Regions from separate parts of the Homo sapiens genome. Here region 1 is linked to region 2. The links come from fine-mapping of genetic effects on gene expression. A gene starts in region 2. The other region holds a variant in brackets. All regions are shown on one strand. Distances are from middle to middle.

What was found. PIP is the estimated chance that this variant, and not a neighbour inherited with it, causes the effect.
Region 1: its variant is fine-mapped to the expression of MAPKBP1 in whole blood (TOPMed, PIP 0.99).

Annotation. Positions count from the first base shown.
Region 1 is chr15:41,847,927-41,850,828 of GRCh38, reverse strand. JMJD7-PLA2G4B (JMJD7-PLA2G4B readthrough) reads right to left here. Exons shown (of 25, transcript NM_005090.4): 25 at 2,686-2,902. It overlaps PLA2G4B (phospholipase A2 group IVB), which reads right to left. Exons shown (of 20, transcript NM_001114633.2): 20 at 2,686-2,902. SPTBN5 (spectrin beta, non-erythrocytic 5) reads left to right here. Exons shown (of 68, transcript NM_016642.4): 67 at 870-960; 68 at 2,201-2,683. The coding sequence ends at 2,213. Among named protein-coding and RNA genes, the nearest start is that of PLA2G4B, 11 kb to the right of the region's middle. The variant A/G (reference allele first, on the strand shown) is at 1,524.
Region 2 is chr15:41,772,918-41,775,819 of GRCh38, reverse strand. It overlaps MAPKBP1 (mitogen-activated protein kinase binding protein 1), which reads right to left and starts at 1,336. Exons shown (of 31, transcript NM_014994.3): 1 at 1,210-1,336; 2 at 431-653. The coding sequence starts at 544. RefSeq lists an enhancer at 1,840-1,889.

The DNA.
Region 1 (2,902 bases), 75 kb before region 2:
GAGGGCGGCCGACTCCCTGGGCCCCAAGCTCCTGGGCCCCTAGTGTTTTATGCATCCTAGGGAGGTTTCACAGTTAGCATCTCTAACCTCCAAGAAGTGGGACTTACTGTTTTTCCTCAAAGAATTTAGGTCCTGGAGAGGTTACGCAACTTGCCCAAGATCACACAGCTAATTAGCAGAGATGGGGCCAGTTTTGAACCCCCAGCTGTGTCCTGGTCCTGTTCTGCCCCTTTTGGAGTCTGCCACTCAGACTGCCCCAAGCCCTTCCTGCCAGAATCCTCATGGACTGTGTTCCTCCAAGGGCTTTCCAGGCTCTGTTCTGTCTGATCTGGGTGCTTCTCTAACCTTCTAGTCCTCAGACAACTTTGAATGTCACCACCCTTGAGTTGTTTTGCAGACAGTAAGCAAGCCAGGTTCTACTTGGAGGAATATATAGAGACAACCCTTTGGACTTTCTTCCGTGGTCAGCGTGCTCTGCTGAGGCTCCGTGTGGACCGTGTGTTCAGGGAATGTGTCTGGGATCCTAGCTCTGTCGCTGGTTCCCCTGGACTCTCCTCCCAAGAGTCTGTCTTCCCAGGAGCCCAAAGGGATCTTGAGTTGTTCGACATTCCAGAATTTCCCACCTCCTAAGAAAGGCTCAGCCTTTCTTAACTCACCTGTGAGGAGTTTCCTAAGAGGCAGGACGCATGGGGGAAAAACCTGCCCACAAGTGCTCAGCCCGCCCCACACCCCCACGTGGGAAGGGCCTGGCATAGCCAGGCTGCCTAAGGCTGTGCTGAGCCTCCAGAAGCTGGAGGAAGGAGCAGCCAGACCTGGCGCCTGCAGATGGTCTGGGCCGGGCTAACAGTGGTTATTCCCTTGCTCTGCAGCCCAGAGTCTGAGCCCAAAACTCAAAGCCAAACCTGTCAGCTCTCTGAATGAGTGCACGACCAAGGATGCCCGGCCTGGATGTCTACTCAGGTGGGACACCTGGGTGGGGGAAGCAGGGCGGGGAGCCCTGGGCTTCAGTGGCTGGCAGGCGCTGTCCTCTGAAGCCTGAGGTTCTGGGCCTCAGACTTACTCTGTTGGGCTGTAGGGAAATGCTATTGGAACCCTCAGCTGCCCCTGCCCACTCTCAGCTGAGAGGAATCCAGGCCACAAAGCCCAGATTTCCACAGACTCTACAGTGGTCCCCTCCCAGGGCTCACTCCAGGCTCTAGTGTGGGGACCCTGTAGACGAAGCTGCCCAGGCTCCCTGTGCCCTTCCTGCTCGGCTGCTTGTGGGAGGAGCAGCCAGGTTTCCCTCTGCCCAGTGCTGAGAGCCTGCCTGGGTTTGTTTCCCATGCACTCCTCACTTTCCTCCCTCCTCTCCCCTCTCCAAGGCACAGCACATTGGCAGGACGGCCAGACCCTGCCCCACCCTTGTTCCAACCCGTTCTCTACCTGGTCCTCCCCTGCTTTCCCCAATCCCCACTCCATGGCAATGGAGAGGTCCAGCATGTCCCGGCCTGCAGGCCAGGGAGGAGATGCGAAGGTGGATGTGC[A/G]GGGGCAGGAGGCTCTTACCTGGCTCCTCAGTCCCTCCTTGTAGATCCCAGCATCATTTCGATGCTCAACCCCCCTCACCCACATCTCCTTCCCTTCCAAACCAGAGGGCTTCAGGCTCTCCAGGGGGAGGGGACACCTGAGGTTAGGTGAAAGTGGAGGAGGGACTGGAGACAGGCAAATCCTCCGTGCATGGGCCCCATGCCAGGATGTGCCTAGATGTGCACACGCATATACAGCCGTGTGCCTGGAGGGCTCATACCATGAGGGGTGGCAGCCACGGCTGTGGTCTCCAGTGTAACCATCTGCTCCCAGTCCTGCAGAGCCCAATATATGATTTAGATGATGTGTTGCTGACGGGACAGGCCTTGTCCTGGACACAGTGGCTCCTGAGGCTACCAGGACAGCCATTTTTTCTGCTGTCTCTAACCCAGGGCTGGGGCTGCTAGGCCAGCTGACAGACGTAGAGTTGGGTTATGAAAGTCGAGGCAACTCCCACCCACTCACGCGTCACTGTGGTCGCTGCTGCAGCGCCTGTCAGTCAGCTCTGGAATCCACTCCCACGCTTATTCTAGGAGGCTGGCTGGTCCAGGGGAGGGCAGGGGCACCAGTGTGTGTTTGTTTGGAGAAGATTCTGGGGTGGCCATACCCTACTAAATTCATTCCGTTTTCCCAACAGGTCTGATCCCTGAGGTGAACCCCAGTGCAACACCAAACTTCAGGGGCACAAGCGAGGACACATCTAAGGGACCAGAATAAGACTCAGCTACAGGCAAAAGGGCTCCTTCCCGTGGCTGCTTCAACCCAGTTCCCCAGGCCCAGCTTCTGGAATAGACAGTTCCTTCTGGTTAGATGGGTCCTACCATGTGGCAGGAAACAGCCATTGCCTGGCCTCCCCCTGCATTCCTGTCTGGGTGAAGAGGAGACGTGTTACGGCAGAGCAGGTGGGCAAGGCCAGGGCTACCCCAGGCCCATGTGGCCTCCTCCTTGCTTGGAAGGGGTGACTCTGAGCACAGGTAGACGCAGACGTGTGCAGAGAATGTGCTCTTCGGAGGAAGAACACTGATGAGCGAGCTCTGTACCAGCCCTTGCCATGTACAGCCAAGAGCCTAGAATGACATGGCCCTTCTCAGCAGTAATAACAGATGGTCTCAGCGCCTCACATTTGTATGAGTCTGTGATGTATCAAGTGCTCCAACTACTCAAGGTAGCGCAGAAGGGAAAACAGGCACAGGCCGGGGGGTTTTGGGTGATTACACAAATGGGCTTGGCCTCCTTACCCCACTGCAAACTGCTGAGGCGCAAGGGAGCTCCCAGCCCTCAGCCTGGACCCTGGGACCGTGCCACCTGAGCCCGAGGCTCTGAAGCACTGCGTGATGAC
Region 2 (2,902 bases):
TAGCATATTTCTTTCTGCCACTACAGTCTTACATAACCCCAGCTGTTACGTTAACACCTGCAGCTACATTAGTCACAGCTTAGCCCTTCACAAGGTATGTGTTCCTACTGTCCTCTCCCAAGAAGGGAAACTGAGTCATAGCATATCAACTGGCTTCCCAAGCACATGCTTAGTGTATAGTGAGGCCACAATTGAACCCAGGTGGTCTTCCTACTATTCACCTTTTCTCATGGATGAATCTCAGCATGCCCACCCCTGCTGCTCTTTTTCCTTCAACCTAAAACCAAATCATTGCCTGCAGAGATCATATGTGATCCTTTAGAGTCAACAAGGGCTTCTAGTTATCTTTCCCAAGAAACAGGAAGGTTAACGAGGAACATGGAGCAGGAGAGGGTGGGTTTGGAAAGAGGTGGATCCCAACAGGACTCACCTTGGAGCTGAGGTCCTCTCGTCGGTTTCCTGCCTTACTCCTGCGCAGTTTGATGGATGGAGATCTCAACAGATTCTTGATCCGGCTGGTAATGGTTGACCCTTCCACAGCCATTATGACGAGAAACCCTTTGGGACAGTCCCCGGCCCAGTCCTGGGTCTTGTCTCAACAGCGGCACTGTCTTCCCACTCCAGAGGGCTTCCCAGTATGCCCTCTCACTGACCTGAGATGGCAGAAGCCACCTTAGTATCACAGTGTCTTACCTTCTGCCTAGCGAAGTCTGCAGCTTTTACCTCTGGGTATTGCTCTCACCATTTCCCTCATCCCCACCTTCTAGCCCTGCACAGTTTCTTACAACGTCGGAAGGAAAGGCTCACGAAAAAGGGGGGGAAAATCCTAAGCCACGAAGAAATGCCAGGCCCACGCCCGCCAGAGGCGTTTAACTGGCGAGATGGATGGGATGGGCCCCAGTTGGTCTCGTGGACGATCTGGTTCCCGTTAATGCCCAACTGTTCCCATGGCAACTGTAGTGTCCAAGGGAGGAGGCCGCCGAGACCACCAGGGATTTCCGCAGGCCTGGACACCTGCGCTAGCGCCGGCGGGGACGCGGCGGGGCTCGCCGTAGCCCACAACTCGTTCTGCCACGGGAGCCTCCCTCCCCCACTCCCTATCCTCCAGAGCTCGCTCTCCGCCCTCCACAGCGGCTCTGGACCTTTATCTTTCACCCGCCTCTGAGGCCCCTGCTACTCGTCAGCGCCCCCGTTCGGGCCCAGCCTCACCAGCCTCGGCGAGCTAAGGCCACCCCGCTCACAGCGCCCTCGGGCATCGCGTTCGGCAATTTCAGCTCCGCCGCGGTAGCCGCAGCGGTAGAGGCAGCAGCAGGAGCTATGGTGGCACGATCGGCTCAAAACGCGAACTACCGCCTGGGCCAAGCCGCGGGCTGGGTGGGCGGAGCCGACGCGAGGGGCGCGGCCTGTAGTCAGGAGAGCGCTTCCAGAGTGGACGAGCAAGGTTTACGGGGGCGGAGCCAATGAAAGGGCCCAGGAAGCAGACGGCTTGGGACTAGGGAACCACGGAATCCGCACAATTGCGGGTACCGCTTTTAGAGGAAGGTCAACAGAACATGGCTTCAGAATTGAGAGAACCAAGCCTTTTATGGTATTATCAGGCCTGGTCCCCCATGGAACTGCACTTCCCAGAGCCCCAAGACGATAACCACGCCTCCAGGGTGTTAAGGTTGTCATCTGATAGGCCCGAGGGACCGTAGCTGAAACTCCTAGCTCAGAATTACAAGACTGAGCTACAGCCTAAAAGCTCTGCTCCCAGCGACCACAAGTGTTGAGATTTAAAGCGACTGAAGTAGTTTCTGCTCGCAGCCAGTCCGGCACGTAGACTCAACGTGGAAAGGATTATTCTGAGTAATGCAATTTAATAGCTAAGAACAGTATTTTTGCACTGGGCAACCTGGTCATCATGAAAGGGGAAAGGGTGGCCTTGAACAGAGCTTTGGGCGTGCGGGGGAAAGAGAAGTGAATATGCTATGTTATAATACTTTAGGTTTCATGGCTTCTTTAGCCTCCAACATCCCATTGTGCTTCCTCACCTAAAGCTGACCAGGACTTTGTTGCTCCAGATCTTTTCCTCATTCCATTTACTTATGAATCCTTTTATCTAGGGCTGTTCCTTGCTGAGGTCACTGTCGAGCTTGCTGATACTAGATCGAGGGGTAGTTTTCTAACTCATGTCGGGGGAGGCAGAGGGAATACACGGAAATGTTACATGAAATAGTATTTCCTGAGTATTCTCCACTTGACTACTACCACAAGAAATCACCTTATGAAAAAGCCTAAGCCAGAGACTTGGGTCCCAAGGGAATAGTACACTGGTGTGTCCGTCTCACCCTATCCAGATCTTTTGAATCCCTGTGGAGATGACATGTGTCTGCAAGAGGGAAGAACCTCTAACAAATTATTATACCTTATGAAAAAGCCTAAGCCAAAGACAAGGGACCCAAGGGAGTACTACACTGGTGTGTCTGTCTCACCCTATCCAGATCTTTTGAAACCCTGTGGAGATGACATGTGATAACAAGAGGGAAGAACCCCTAAACTCATTGCTTGTGTACAACGGTGAGCCTTTAGAGCCAAGTGGCAAAGCACATATTTTCTTGTGTATACTGTAGCCACGTACTGAAAATTAGATTTGTAAAGCTCACAAGTTGACATGGAGATGATGGATGTCACCTCCTGGAGACCAACTGGCAATAGCACGTGGCCTTCTTCCCTTCAACCATGCACTGCAAATATTATGAAACAGAAAATACGATTTTCAAATTTATTTCCCAAGTCTGGAAGAAGAAGGCAAGAACCATTAGCTACAATATGCAAGAGGTAGTTGGTTCCTTCAACCTCTTGGTAGTTACATGATGGGACCTCTCCATGGGATTGAAAGCTAATAAATGGTGCCACCTGG